Regions from separate parts of the Homo sapiens genome. Here regions 1 and 3 are each linked to region 2. The links come from fine-mapping of genetic effects on gene expression. A gene starts in region 2. Each other region holds a variant in brackets. All regions are shown on one strand. Distances are between the middles of the regions. Region 1 overlaps TPD52-MRPS28 (TPD52-MRPS28 readthrough). Region 2 holds the start of TPD52 (tumor protein D52). Region 3 overlaps TPD52-MRPS28 (TPD52-MRPS28 readthrough).

Region 1 (5,228 bases), 33 kb before region 2:
GGATGGAAACTTGCATAGATATCCCTTCAGGTTACTTCCAACCACAAGACCCAGTGAATTTAATTGTAAACGTCTCCCTAGTCTAGATGTACACACGGTTGTTGCCAGAATTGAATAGCTAACAAGCTGACTAAAATCTATCCAAAGCCTCCTTATTTAGAACATTTGAAATAATTTATTATTTTTGATAGAGAAAAGTGGTCACACAGGGAGTTTCATTTTCACCTCCCACTTCCCAAGACAACTGGCTCACTTCCCCAGCCAACCTCAACAAAGTTTTATCTCGGTGAACTACCTGAGTCTTCTCACCCTACCTGCCCCAGCCTACCTGCCCCCCAGGAGAGTTAGAGCTCTGACAAAGAGGAAGCCTGAATATACCCTTACTCTTAAGGCACTGGTTTTCCAACATTTCTGATAATTACTACTTAACAAGCACACTGTAAACTAGTTCAACCATTGTGGAAATCAGTGTGGCGATTCCTCAGGGATCTAGAACTGGAAATACCATTTGACCCAGCCATCCCATTACTGGGTATATACCCAAAGGACTATAAATCATGCTGCTATAAAGACACATGCACACGTATGTTTATTGCGGCATTATTCACAATAGTAAAGACTTGGAACCAACCCAAATGTCCAACAATGATAGACTGGATTAAGAAAATGTGGCACATATACACCATGGAATACTATGCAGCCATAAAAAATGATGAGTTCATGTCCTTTGTAGGGACATGGATGAAATTGGAAATCATCATTCTCAGTAAACTATCACAAGAACAAAAAACCAAACACCGCATATTCTCACTCATAGGTGGGAAGTGAACAATGAGATCACATGGACACAGGAAGGGGAATATCACACTCTGGGGACTGTTGTGGGGTGGGGGGAGGGGGGAGGGATAGCATTGGGAGATATACCTAATGCTAGATGACGAGTTAGTGGGTGCAGCGCACCAGCATGGCACATGTATACATATGTAACTAACCTGCACAATGTGCACATGTACCCTAAAACTTAAAGTATAATAAAAAATAAATTAATTAATTAAAAAAAAAAATTTCAGTCTTTGAGGTTAAAAAAAAAACAAGCACACTCACACACACATTTAAACAAAAGTTGACATTTAAGAAAACAATGGCCGGGCGCGGTGGCTCACGCCTGTAATCCCAGCACTTTGGGAAGCCGAGACGGGTGGATCATAAGGTCAGGAAATCGAGACCATCCTGGCTAACACGGTGAAACCCCATCTCTACTAAAAATACAAAAAATTAGCCGGGCGTGGTGGTGGGCACCTGTAGTCCCAGCTACTCAGGAGGCTGAGGCAGGAGAATGGCAGGAACCCGGGAAGCAGAGCTTGCAGTGAGCTGAGATCACGCCACTGCACTCCAGCCTGGGCGACAGAGCGAGACTCTGTCTCAAAAAAAAAAAAAAAAAAAAAAAAAAAAGAAAACAGTGCTCACCATTAGAACATGAAGGACATTTTGGTCTCATACTGTTCTACTACTTTGTTCTTCTTAAAAAAACACTTGGTCAAAATCCACAACCCAGTAAAAGGTCCCAAGAAACAGTATGGAGAATATATCCGAAGACATACTTCTGAACACTCAACAGCTCCTAAAATCCTCCTAGGTAGAGACAAAGGCAAAAAACTGAAATAATAAATCCCCCTTCACCCCAATCATGTGTAAATACTTAGTTCCACTTCACCCACATCCATAAAATACACAATAAATGCTGGGGCTTTCATCTAATCAAGAACAACCTCAGGCAGTTTCTATTCAAATATAAATAATTATCCAGGCCCCAAAATTCTTCTCCTAGTTCCACAGGTAATGACTGGAAAATCTACAAACAACTTCAGCTAAAACTCCCTTATCACTCTTAACAAGTATGGCTCAAAGACAAAATTTCAATCTTTTCCAATTTTTTTTAAAGTAGGCAGGCAGCAAAATAAAACATCAGCAAAAGCTAAATGTGCTTGGATAAAGCACAATTAAATACATGTTTGTATTTTTCCAAAATGGACCACAGGTTGCTATTAAAAAGAGTAATAAAATCAATCTATAGAAACTAAATAGATAAGTGTTTGCCTGCG[G/A]GCACGGGATGTGGAGTGGCTGTAAATAGACACAGGGTGATGAAAATATTCTAAAATTAGATTGTGGTGATCACTGCACAACTCTGTAAGTTTACTAGAAATCACTGAATTGTACATTTAAAACAAGTGAATTTTAAGGTAAACTATATGGTGATTATTTATGGCAAATTATATATCAATAAAGCTTTTTTCTTAAAAAATGGAAACTATATGTTAGATTTTTTTTTTAATATCCAAGATACGTGTCAGTTAAAACAAGCAAAGTACAGAATAATGTGTATGACATGTTCCCATTTGAACTTTTAAAGTGATTGTATACATTACCTGCCTAGACATTTCTGGAAGGACACCCAGAGGCTGATCATAACAGCCGCTCTGGGAGAAATGGGTCTAGGCTAAGAGAGTTTGAGTTTTAATTGCATACTGTTTGGATTCATTTGCTTTGAACATGTATTATTTTTCATAAGTATGAAAATAAGATGGGTGGAAGCCCTCAGGAGTAGGACTCTTACAGCAGTACCAAGTTTATAACGGTGCTAGTTCATATTGTTCTTTGAGAAGGGGATAGTTTGGTCCTTCAGAATTTAAATATTTCAGCAAGGTAGGGTGGCCTGTAATTCCAGCACTTTGGGAGGCCAAGGCGGGAGGATCACTTGAGCCCACGAGTTCAATGCTGCAGTGAGTCATGATTGTGCTACTGCACTCCAGCCTGAGCGACAGAATGAGACCCCGTCTCTTTTCTTTTTTTTTTCTTTTTTTTGAGACAGAGTTTCACTCTTGTTGCCCAGGCTGGAGTGCAATGGCACGATCTTGGCTCACTGCAACCTCGCCTCCCAGGTTCAAGCAATTCTCCTGCCTCAGCCTCCCAAGTTGCTGGGATTACAGACATGCGCCACCACGCCCGGCTAATTTTGTATTTTTTGTAGAGATGGGGTTTCTCCATGTTGGTCAGGCTGGTGGTGAACTCCCGACCTCAGGTGATCCGCTCGCCTCAGCCTCCCAAAGTGCTGAGATAACAGGCATGAGCCACCGCGCCTGACCATGAGACCCTGTCTCTAATTATTTCTCAGTAGAAGTCTGCGTTAAAAGGTACCTGTGTTTGACAATAAGAGGCCAAGTGACAGAATCTTCCAACTGAAATCTGATTTCATAAAATCCAAGAGGAAGAGAATTTGAATGCCCTCTTAGGAGGAAAATGGGGTTCATATCATTTAGTCGTCTCCTTCGGCAGGTGCTGGAACACAACTCAAAGTGGCTTATGGTTTGCAATTATAAATCTGGGAAGAGATTAGATACATTATATCTGAGTACAGGACTATATGCATCTAGGGAGTTGAAAACATAGTCCTCATAGAGCTTTATCAAAAAGAAAAAGAATATGCAAATAAAAAACTAAAACTGAATCCAAAAAGGTAGCTGAACACCACACTCTCAAATGTTGTAACCAGACTTTTGACAACTGCTCAGATCCAGGCCTGGGTTCTACCATCTTGCCTCAGCTCATTTTTGGCTTTGGTTCCTAATTGAGCTCTTCACCTCGCTATTTAAGGACACTGGCTCTCTGAACATTGAGAACCTGTGGCTCACCGCATCCTCCCCTCCCCACCTTAGGCTCATCCTGTCATCAGACGGCTTCCTGATTTACAAGGCCAAGGTAACCAAAATTTGGACCATAAAATATTAGTATTCTCAACTTTCAAACACGAGCCAACCAGATGACCTGTTTCCAGGATCATGGCAGCCCCTCCGACCCAGAGCCTCTCCTGCTAGTGGGGTCTTCTTCCTCCAGTGCCTCCACTGACAAAGGAGCCACCGTCTCAGCCACCCCATGAGTCTGCCTCCCGTGAGATTTCTACAACTGACACTGCAGCCCCCACTTCCACTCTCATCTATTTGTGCCACTTGGATTATTTCAACTATATTATTCAACACTCAGCCACCTGTATTTACTGAATGGCTGCTCTGCCTAAGACACTGGCAGGGAGGGGAGAAAATAAGGGTATTTTTACAGTAACAATTAGGACAGTGTTTTGTTTCTAATAGCAGCTTGAGAAATAATTCGCATACTATAAAATCCACTATTTTTTTATAAAGAGTATGGTTCACTGGTTTTTAGTATATTCACAGAGTTATGCAAACATCACCGCAATCTAATTTTCATACCCCAAAAAGAAACCCACATCCATCAGCAGCCTAGGCTAGTATTTTTATGAAAAAAAAAATTTTTTCAGAGTTTCAGACTTGCAAACTTTTAAAACATTTAAAATTATAAACTGTCCAGGTTATCCAAAGACTGTACAGTATATGGTCCAGATTAATACAGTTAATAATTACCCACTCTGGGGCATATGCAACTTCAAGGGCAGAGGTAAAGATTTGCCTTGGGGAAAAATTCAGCACAACCATGAAAATAACAAGTAGCAATAAACGGGGGGTGGGGGTGAGGGCGGGGAAGGGGTTGCATTTGGATAGCGCCTCCCAATGCACTTGAACACTATAGCTAACAATACTGCATTATACACTTAAAAATTTGTTAAGAGGTTAGATCTCATGTTAAGTGTATTATCAAAATCAAATAAAATACAACGGCGTTTTTCAATCCTCCTAACCATCTTGACAGGAATACAAGACATTTACAAATGGGGAGCCTGATGTTCGGGGGATGGATGCCTGACTCCCAGTCACCCAGCTAGGGGACCCCACCCGGCTCTTCTGATTATCTGGCAGAAGTGAGCAAAACAGCTCAATCCAGCAGGCTCCATGTTAGCAGTAAGCAACTCTAATTTCATATCTGACTGAAAAAAGAAAAGAAGCCTATTTATGCTCTCAACATAATAAAGCAGCCTTTGTTTTATGCTAAGGCCCTGGTGATTTTTTCAGCACCAGTCCAGCTGTGACACACAGACGCTGGTTCGATGCCTGCATAAATGCTTTCTCTTTGTTTAGTGGTGAGAACGTGAGACCTCACTAAGGCCCAAGTCCTGGGTTCTCCTGATGTCAACCCCACAAGTGAGTAGTGGAGCCTCACTGGCAAGGAGACCTACCTGTGCCTTTCCCAAATGCCTGGGAAGGTAGGTTAGAGTTAGAATCTTTTAATTAAAATGAGGTAAAATTCTAATTACTCCA
Region 2 (5,228 bases):
GTTGGAAGAGGGATTTTCAATAGATAAATGCATGTAAGACAAGAGGTAGGGCATTTAATTTTACAACTAGAGTTTCATTAGGGATTTTTTAAGGGACAAATATAAGAAAACTCCATGTACATTAAAAACTATTAAAAGTTCAACAAATCCTAAAATTTTCTGCTTTGGTTTTAAGTATGTTGCCAAAATCACAATTCAGGAGACAATCACAGAGTTTGATAAACCTTATTTCAGCCAACACAGTTTGCTAGTGAACACCAGGTTTAAAATCCCAGGTTGTGCCTTTTCCAGTTTAAGGCAGGAGTCTTGCTCCAGATTCACTTAAGACTGAGTCATCCACTCTACTAGTTCTAAGATCTTCCATGTAAAGTTATCCTCCAAGCCCAGCACTGCCTTATCAGCAACTCTCTGGCTAAGTTCTGCTTCTTGAGAATAGACAGGGAAAACAGAACAGGAGAAAGTGGGAAACAAGAGATGGATTTGGAGGGACACAGAGGTTACTATGGCTGGGGCCTGCTCTTGGACACTTTCCTCACTCATCTTAGGCAGTCAACACATATTTCTAAGCACCTACTGTGTGCACTGGTAACATAAAGATGAAAAGGCAGGTAGGCAGGTGGAAGCAAGAGTAAGGAATGGCCAGGTGGTTTTGTTTTGTGTTTGTTTGTTTTTTGAGATAGAGTCTCGCTCTGTCGCCCAGGCTGGAGTGCAGTGGTTTGATCTAAGCTCACTGCAACCTCTGCCTCCCAGTTTCTAGTGATTCTCCTGCCTCAGCCTCCTGAATAGCTGGGACTACAGGCCGGTGCCACCGCGCCGAGCTAATTTTTGTATTTTTAGTAGAGACAGGGTTCCACCTTGTTGGACAGGGGTCAAACTCCTGGCCTCAAGTGATCTGCCTGCCTCAGCTTCCCAAAGTGCTGGGATTACAGGTGTGAGCCACCGCACCCAGCCTTGGCCACGTTGTTCTAACACAGCAAAGCTTTGGAGTAAATGAACTGACCCTCCCAAGGCAGTGCCTCTTCTTTCATTCGGAGCAGAGTCCTCCACCTCACCCAAAGAACATATGGGAAAATTATAGACACGAAAAGACTCATCTTACAAGATAAAGATTTGAAAAAAATATGTCTTAGAATTAGACACTTAAACTAGTCCTATAAAAACTACACAAGAAGTTGGAATACTGCAGTGCTACCAATGACTGTTGATTCTTACCACCCAAGCTAGAACACAAACACTACTAAAACTAGTTACTCCACTCACGTAAGTAAAACACAGCCGTTTAATTTACTTTGACAAGTACCAAACATAGTTATTCTAAAAACATCATTATGTCAAACGACAGTGTGTAACAGATTAGTATACAAATACACATGGGCACGTTTGTCGTCATGTCTCCCCCGTCCTGCGTCGCCCCCATTGAAAGCCAGACAGACATAATGCTGACTTACATGGTGGCCCCTAAGCCGGCTAACAATATATACAAGACATGTGACAAGCTTTCTAACTCAAACATTTGCATGTCTACTATGTACAAGTCATCATGTTATCCCACTCAGGACAACCAAAGATGAAATGTTTCTAACCTCAAGAAGCTTAAAATTTAGATAATAATATGTATGTGTATATATACGTTATACAGGTAATGTATAATATATATATACACATAGGTAACACATATAAAGCATATTGTATGTAATGTTTGTAAGCACTTGTGTTAAGTCTGAAATTAATCTGAAGGGGAGCGAGGAAAGAGCTGAAAGACTCCAAAGAGTCTATCTTACAAGTAAATGAAAGTAAAGTACAGGCCTGGCCCAGTGGCTCACACCTGTAATCCCAGCACTTTGGGAGGCTGAGGCGGGTGGATCACCTGAGGTCAGGACTTGGAGACCAGCCTGGTCAACATGGAGAAACCTCTGTCTCTACTAAAAATACAAAATTAGCCGGGCTGTGGTGGCGCACACCTGTAATCCCAGCTACTTGGGAGGCTGAGGCAGGAGAATCACTTGAACCAGGGAGGCAGAGGTTGCAGTGAGCTGAGATCCCGCCACTGCACTCCAGCCTGGGCTACAGGTGGAGACTCAAAAAAACAAACAAAAAAAACACCAGAGTCTGAAAAAAATAAAGTACAAGATAGTATATTTGGAATATGGTTTGATTTACATAAAAATGCACACATGACGGCACATACTGGAGGAAAATAAGCAATACATGAAAACTTGTGTCAGGGCTCAAAACAGGAGTGATTCCTATCCTCACTTCCCAAGATTACCTACCTTGTTTTCTTTTTTCAGCATTTATGTATCTTTTTAAAAGCGTGCCACACACATCTGCGTACAGTCACAGGCTTATGATCAGCAGAGATCTCTAGGATGAAACTATTTAAATCTGAAAACCATGGCCTACTATTGCTCTATTTGGGGGTAATTTCACTTGAGCTGTTTTCAGAAGCAAGTGCACCCAACGCTATGGTAAATTAGACTGAAGGTTTTGTGTTGTGGGATTTCACCCTTCCTACGAAAAGCTCTCTTCCCTCAAACCCACAGACACCACTCCACAATCTGGGGGTTTCTAGTATGATAAATATCTGCCTCCCAAACCCCCCATGGGTCATACGCCACCAAAAATCCTAACCACCTGAACTTAGAAGAAGGCAGAAAGTCTTAATTTATGAGGGAGAGAGGGGTTTCCCACCTGGAGGGACGAGAGCGACTCACTGTCCTCTGTTCCTGGTTCCAGTCACTTACAGGAGCTGGCTGCGCCGTGCTCCCTTCACGCGGCTTTCCACCCAAAGCGCATCACGGCCGCCAGCCCCTGACGCTAGCCCCTTCGCCACCTCCCAGAACCTTCTCTCCCTCTCCCCCACACACGCACACTCACACTCACACATGCAGTCCCATCTGCCCCCGCCAGAGCCGCTCCTTCCAGGGCCCCAGGATGCCAGATCCGGATCCGGGAGATGCAACTTGCGGCGCCGGCCCAGGAGGCTCGGCACCTGCTCGAGCCGCCGGGCCGCGCTCAGCCCCGCGCCGAGCCAAAGCCCGAGTCCAAGCCCGAGTCCAAGCCCGAGCCCAAGCCCGCTGGGTCCGCGCCCTCACCTTGCTCGCCGCGGTCCATGTCTCCAGCCCGCCGCCTCGTGTCCTCTGCAGCACCCCCGCCTGCAGCCCGTCCCGGCTCGGATCGCCCGCCGCGCCGCGCAGAGCTCCTCCTCGCCTCCGCCGGCGACTCCCGCGAAGTCCCCACCCCCAGAGGCGTCGGGCGCGGCGGCGCCGCCCGCCCTCGGCCTGGAGCGCTTTCCTGGGGCGTCACCCAACCACCTGACCCGGTCGACCTGTGCGCTCCGCCACGTCGGCGCGGGCGGCGCAGCGCTAGGAGGGCCGGGCGCACCCCGACTCCCGCACCGGCTGGAAGTCGGCCGGGAGGAGGGAAGAGGACGGCGAGGAGATGGACTCGGCCATGGAGGCTGCGTGGAGCCTGCTTGGGAACCGGGATGGCGTTTGCCTTCCACCATCAAGTTATTTATAAAATCAAAAGTTTCCTCCGAGGCCTTGGAGATGCCCTTTCTCTGCATCTGCGAACACCTACTTTCCTATACTTACAGTAGGAAACACAGGAACGTTATTTAGAAATGCCAGTGGCTCTTTTCTCTCTGTATTTTATTACCTAAATAATGCCCTATGATGTCTTCTCTAACTAGGTCATAAACCAGCATAGGTGAAAATTGCAAAGAATCTCTTGAAAAATTATATAGTCTTTTCCATAGAATGCGGATTTTTTAGGTGACTAGGAAGATTTTCATATAATAAAAATCTGTTTTGAGTGCGGGACTGAGGACAACACTAAAATGAATTAAATCAAATGAAATTAATTAAATTAACCGAAGGTCAGAATTATCAGCAGAGATCTTTGGAAAATGCGTGTTGAGGCGTCATGTCCGTTGATCAAAGGACAGTTTGAGGTTCCCGTAACAATCCAGTTCTTTTCATTAGTAGCGTTAACAATCTGTTTTCACAGGGTTTTGCAGTTACTCGTCTTCCATGAAGTCACTTTGATTGTATGGGTCATGGTCTTCAGGTGGTGTCTCAATTTCGTAAGCTATCTGAGGCTGCAAATGAAGTGGGGCTTCTTTTCTGTGTTGCTTGACGTTTAGGCCGAAGCATTGTGTAGCACTCCACAGACAACAAAGAAGCACTTATTCAGATGTTTTAAAATTACTTGTAGTTACCTGAAGTGACTGTATGCTATTAATATCTCTATACTGTCGTGCTGTATGTAAAGTGTAGCTCTCTCCAGCCTGCATCTTCCAGTGTCTTCTGGGGACGTTTACTGTTTGACTCAACCAGATGTGATCTCTTCTATTTGAGTCCTTCTACTCTGACTGCACTTGGCTCCTCTCCTGTGGCACTCACCCCAGCACTGGTGCCAGGATGCTACCAGTGTATGTTTCACAGTCCTATTAGGTTACAAGCTCCAGGTGGTAAAGTCCTTAAAATGGCCTATTAAAAAAATCAAAAAACAGGCCTGGCACGGTGGCTCACGCCTGTAATCCCAGCACTCCGGGAGGCCAAGGCGGGTGGATCACTTGAGGTCAGGAGTTTGAGACCAGCCTGGCCAACATGGTGAAACCTTGTGTCTACTAAAAATACAAAAATTGTCGGGCGCGGTGGCTCACGCCTGTAATCCCAGCACTTTGGGAGGCCGAGGCGGGCGGATCACGAGGTCAGGAGATCGAGACCATCCTGGCTAACACGGTGAAACCCCATCTCTACTAAAAATACCAAAAATTAGCCAGGTGTGGTGGCGGGCGCCTGTAGTCCCAGCTACTCGGCAGGCTGAGGCAGGAGAATGGCATGAACCCGGGAGGCAGAGGTTGCAGTGAACTGAGATCACGCCACTGCACTCCAGCATGGGCAACAGAGTGAGACTCCATCTCAAAAAAAAAAAAAAAAGTTCCAGGTGGGCAAAGATTATTTTGGTCATCTCTGCATCCTTTAATTCTACCATGCAATTAATAAATATTGTAATTTTAAACCAGGCATGGTGGTGTTTGCCTGTAAACCCAGCTACTCAGGAGGCTAAGGCAAGAGGATTGCTTGAGCCCAAAAAGGTGCAATATTTTTTAAAAAATTTTTAATGTAACATAAAGGTAAATTTTGGCATCAGCAGAAAATTCTGTATGTGGTAAAGAATTTTTGACTAGCTGATGCTGAGATCTATTGTATAGAAATAAA
Region 3 (5,228 bases), 53 kb before region 2:
CAGGCCGACTGGAGAGTGCAAAGAGCAGCCAATCTGCAGACTGAAGACAGGCTTGGCAGAAAGTCTCCGCCCGTCTACAGTGGTCTACAATGAATAAAAAACAGTGACCTGACAAACCAATCTGATCTCTCCTCTGAACAGGAGTCTAAAATGGAGATACCAAGAGTCAGTACTTACCAATGGGCACAGAAGCCACAATGACCTACAGAGAGATGACGAAAAGCAGAGCAAGAGAGCAGAAGCTATAAGGCTTCAATAAACAAGAAAGATCAAGAGTCATACAAGCGGCGGAAAAGGCAGCAGAACCATAACAGTAGAATGTCACCTAGAGAGAAGGAAGGGAGGCAAGAGAGGAATGGAATGTCATCTCTGAACAGCCAACTACTAGATTTTCAATCAAGCTCCCTGCAGAGGGCAGACCTTACAGACTAACTCCTGGAAGACTGCTGTATCCCCAAAACATAAACTTAACTGTGTGGCTAGTCCTACTTTTCTTATTCTCTATGAATTCAATAAAATCCATCACTTGTTTCTTGAAGCCTAACAGAGCCTATTTATATGGCAGTAATACCGTGTGATACATGGCAGTGATACCAGTCCAGAAGCCAGAACGGAAATGGAGGATAAATCTGACCACACAAAACTTTAAAACTTCCGTATGGCAAAAAATGTTCAACAAGGTCAAAAGAAACTATAAACAAGGAAAAAATATTTGGAAGACATATGACAAAGGCTAATTTCTTCTTAATATAACAAAAACTTGTTAAAATAAATAACCCAATAAAAGACAAAGAAGTAAAGGATATCATAGTATAGAAAAATAAATGTAAATAGTGCAAACTCTATAAAGGATAATTTGTCAATATCTACTAATATTGAACATTATATCCCTTTGACCTAACAAATCAACTGCTAAGAATTTACCCTCAGAAACACACTATCACCAAAAGTACCCTACAATATATCAAAAGATATTAACTGTGGCATTATTCATAACATTAATGACCATAAATAGGTTAGTTATGGAACACTATGTGGTCACTAAAAGATGAATTCAATTTTTACAAAAAGATCTCTAAAATATAAAGCATTAAAAAGCAAGGTAGAACTAAAATCCTGAATTAAAACAGCAATCATTATTGCCAACCATACAGAATAAAAAGGATTATAAAGTAATACTATGACCAACTGTGTGCCAACAGATTGGTTAGCTTAGATGAAATGACAAATTCCTAGAAAGACACAAAATCCTGAAATTGACTCAAGAATAAACAGAAAATCTGAAAAGACCTCTAACAAGCAAAGATATTCAAAAACCACCCACATGCAAAGGCCTACTCCCAGATGGCTTCACTGGTGAATTCTACCAAATATTTAAAGAAGAATGAATACCAATTATTCACAAATACTTTCAGCATAAAATAGAAGAGGAGGAAATGCTATGCAGCTCAGTCTATGAGGCCAGTATTACCCTGCTACCAAAATCGGACAAAGATATCACAAGAAAACGACAGACTAGTATTTCTAATAAATACAGACACGAAAGTCCTCAGCATAATACTAGCAAACCATTATCTAGGAATGTTAAAAAAAAAAAAAAAGTTTATTTAGTATGAGCAAGTAGAATTTATCCCAGGAATGTAAGTTTGTTTTAACATCCAAAAATCAATCAATGTAATCATATCAATAGATAAAGGACTAAAACATATGATCATCAAAATAGATGCAAGAGACATAGAAAAAGCATTTGACAAGATTCATCACCCTTTATGATCAAAACACTCAACAAACTAGGAATGTAAAGGAACTTCCTCAGTTTGATAAAGGGTGTCTATGGAAAACCGCAGCTAACATCTTAGTTAACAAAGACCGAATGTTTTTCCCCTAAGACCAGGAACAGAAAGGGTATTTGTTCTTATCACTTCTATTTAACATTGAACTGGAGGTTCTAGCCAGGACACTTAGGCAAGAAAAAGGACTAAAAGGCATCCGTTTTGGAAATGAAAAAGTAAAACAATTTCCATTTGCAGTAACATAATCTCATGTATAGAATAATAAGGAATCCATTAAAAAACTATTAGAACTCATAAATGAGTTCAGCAACTTTGCAGGCTTATAAGATCAATTCACAAAACTTATCACGTATCTATACAATTTCAATGAATAACCTAAAATTGAAATTAAGACAAAATTGTATTTACAACAGCATTGAAAAGAATACATTTAATAAGAGAATTTATACTTTGAAAACTACAAAATATGGCTGAAAGAAATTAAATACATTTAAATAAATGGCAAGTCTAAAAAAATGGGAAGACATCCATATTCATGGGTCTGAAGACTTAATATTGTGGAGATGACAATACCTCTCAATCAATTTACAGATTCAGTGTAATGCCTATCAAAATCCCAGCTGACTTCTTGACAAAAATTGACAAGCTGATCCTAAAATTCTCACAGAAATTCAACGGACCCAGAGTAGCCAAAACAATCTTGAAAGAGAGAACAACTTAGAGGACTCATGCTTTCTTTTTTTTTCTTT[C/CTT]TTTTTTTTTTTTTTTTGAGACAGAGTCTTGCTCTATTGCCCAGGCTGGAGTGTAGTGGTGCAATCTTGGCTCACTGCAACCTCCACCTCCCAGGTTCAAGCGATTCTCCTGCCTCAGCCTCCCGAGTAGCTGGGACTACAGGCGCGTGCCACCACTCCTAGCTAATTTTTTGTATTTTTAGTAGAGATGGGGTTTCACCATGTTAGCCAGGATGGTCTCGATCTCCTGACCTCGTGATCCGCCCACCTCAGCCTCCCAAAGTGCCAGGATTACAGGTGTGAGCCACCGCACCCAACCCAGACTCAAGCCTTCTAATTTCAAACTTCACTACAACACTACAGTAATCAAGATAATGTGTTATAGATATAAGAATAGACATATAGGTCAATGGAATAGAATTCAGAGTTCGGAAATAGACATTCACAGTTAAGGTTAATTGATTTCTGACAAGGTGCCAAGACAGTCTGACATGGAAAAATAGTCTTTTCATTAAATGGTGCTGGGGAAAATGGATAGCCACATGCAAAAGAATAAAACTGGACCCCTACCTCAAACCATACACTTAGAATCAAAGACCTAAATGTAAGGGTTTAAACTATAAAACTCTTAGAGGAAAACACAGATATAACTCTACATTGGATCATGCAATGGTTTCTTAGACAGGACACCAAAAGCACAAAAAAAGATAGATAAATTGGACATCATCAACATTAAAATCTTTTATGCTTCAAGCACACCGTCAACGAAGTGAAAAGACAACCCACAGAATGTGAGGAAATACTGTAAAATCATCTATCTGATGATGGCATTGTATCTAGAAAATAAAAAGAACTCTTGCCATTCAATAATGAAAAGACAACCAAATTTTCAAGTGTGCAAAGAATCTGAATAAATCATTTCTCCAAAGAAGACATACACATGGTCAATTAGCACACACAGTGATGGCCAACATCATTAGACATCAGGGAGATGCAAATCAAAACCACCTCATGCTTCACACCCACTAGAATGGTTATAATCAAGAAGACAATAATAAGTGTTGGTGACGATCCAGAGAAACAACAATCTTCATACACTCCTAACAGGTATGTAACACAGTACAGTCACTTCAGAAAACCGTCTAGCATTTCCTCAAAAGGTTAAATATAGAAATTACTGTATTACCCCATAATTGCACTCCTAGGTAAATATCTAAGATAAATGAAAACAATATGTCTGTACAAAAAAACATGCACAAATATACACAAGTATTCAAAGTAGTTAAAAAGTAAAAACAACCCAAATGTCCATCAACTGATGACTGAATAAATAAAATATGGTACATGTATACAAGGGAATATTATTCAGCAATAAGGAAATTAAGTAATGACAGATGCTACTCCATGGATGAACCCTGAAAACATCATGTGACGTGAAAGAAGCCAGACACAAAAGACCACATATGTATAAACCCATTTATATGACATATCCAAAATAGGCAAATTTATAGACAGAAAGTAGATCAGTAATTGCCTAGGGCTGGGAGTAAGGAAGTGGGGAGAGGAATGAGGAGTGACTGCTAATGGGTAAGGAGTATCCTTTTGGGTTGATGTTCTAAAATTGTGGTAAATGTTGTACAAGTATCTGGATACACTAAAAACCAATGAATTATAGATTGAATGAGCTGTATGGTTATCAGAATTATATCTTAAAGATGTTATTTTTTTAAAAAGCAAAGCAAAGAATAATGTGTATACTATCCCATTGTAAACTTCTACCCGTGGCTTTGTGTATGTGCTAGTACATGGACAGTTTTCTGGGGGAAAAAAAGTCAAGAAATTTAACAGTAGTTTACTTTGGGAAGGGAAACTATAGTGAATGAGTTCAAGAAAAAGGGATTTCAATTTTTTACTTTATACCTTGCTGTTCATGTAAAATTTGTTTCACACCATGTGAAAGAAAATATAAGCTTCTTTAAAATTAAAAGAATATATGGCCTTTAAAACCACACAGTACTGGCATAAGAATAAACAAAACATTTGAAACAAGTCCAGAAATAGATCCACAAATATAAAGGAATTTAATGTATGAAAATACTTACATTTTATATGAGTGGAGAAAAGATAAATCTTTCCCTAATTCAAGCCAGAAATTCCAGATGAAATAAAAAGCTATAGCAGAAAACATTAGAAAATATACACAATTAAAATGTTAGAAAAACTACAGGACATTAATAATTTGGGTACTGATGGGATCTCTCTGGGATAAAAAACTCAAAAGTTACTAAGAGACTGACAAATTTGACTATATACTATTAAAACTCTGTTATGATAGAATAGCACAAGTTAAAAGACAAGTGACAGCCTGAGAGAAAATATTTATAACAGACAGAGGTTTACATACCTTGTACCATGTATATATATAAGGATTCAGTAGATGGTATCTAAGCACAACAAAATTGGAATTAAATGAATATTTCTAAAAAAAAATAATAGGCTGGACGCGGTGGCTCATGCCTGTAATCCTAACACTGTGGGAGGCCGAGGCAGGTGGATCACCTGAGGTCAGGAGTTCAGACCAGCCTAGCCAACACGGCAAAACCCTGTCTCTACTGAAACTGCAAAAATTAGCTGGCCATGGTGGTTCACGTCTGTAATCCCAGCTACTCAGGAGGGTGAGGCACGAGAATCACTTGAATCCAGGAGA

The links. PIP is the estimated chance that this variant, and not a neighbour inherited with it, causes the effect.
Region 1: its variant is the best candidate, but not a certain one, in a credible set for the expression of TPD52 in tibial nerve (GTEx, PIP 0.69).
Region 3: its variant is the best candidate, but not a certain one, in a credible set for the expression of TPD52 in whole blood (INTERVAL, PIP 0.70).

The regions. Positions count from the first base shown.
Region 1 is chr8:80,135,100-80,140,327 of GRCh38, forward strand. All of the region lies in intron 1 of TPD52-MRPS28 (TPD52-MRPS28 readthrough), which reads right to left. The region is part of intron 1 of TPD52 (tumor protein D52); the gene reads right to left. Among named protein-coding and RNA genes, the nearest start is that of TPD52, 34 kb to the right of the region's middle. RefSeq lists an enhancer at 3,480-3,529. The variant G/A (reference allele first, on the strand shown) is at 2,103.
Region 2 is chr8:80,168,330-80,173,557 of GRCh38, forward strand. It overlaps TPD52 (tumor protein D52), which reads right to left and starts at 3,235. Exons shown (of 8, transcript NM_001025253.3): 1 at 3,096-3,235. The coding sequence starts at 3,114. TPD52-MRPS28 (TPD52-MRPS28 readthrough) reads right to left here and starts at 3,235. Exons shown (of 7, transcript NM_001387778.1): 1 at 3,096-3,235. The coding sequence starts at 3,114. RefSeq lists a silencer at 3,067-3,396.
Region 3 is chr8:80,115,192-80,120,419 of GRCh38, forward strand. All of the region lies in intron 1 of TPD52-MRPS28 (TPD52-MRPS28 readthrough), which reads right to left. The region is part of intron 1 of TPD52 (tumor protein D52); the gene reads right to left. Among named protein-coding and RNA genes, the nearest start is that of TPD52, 54 kb to the right of the region's middle. The variant C/CTT (reference allele first, on the strand shown) is at 2,543.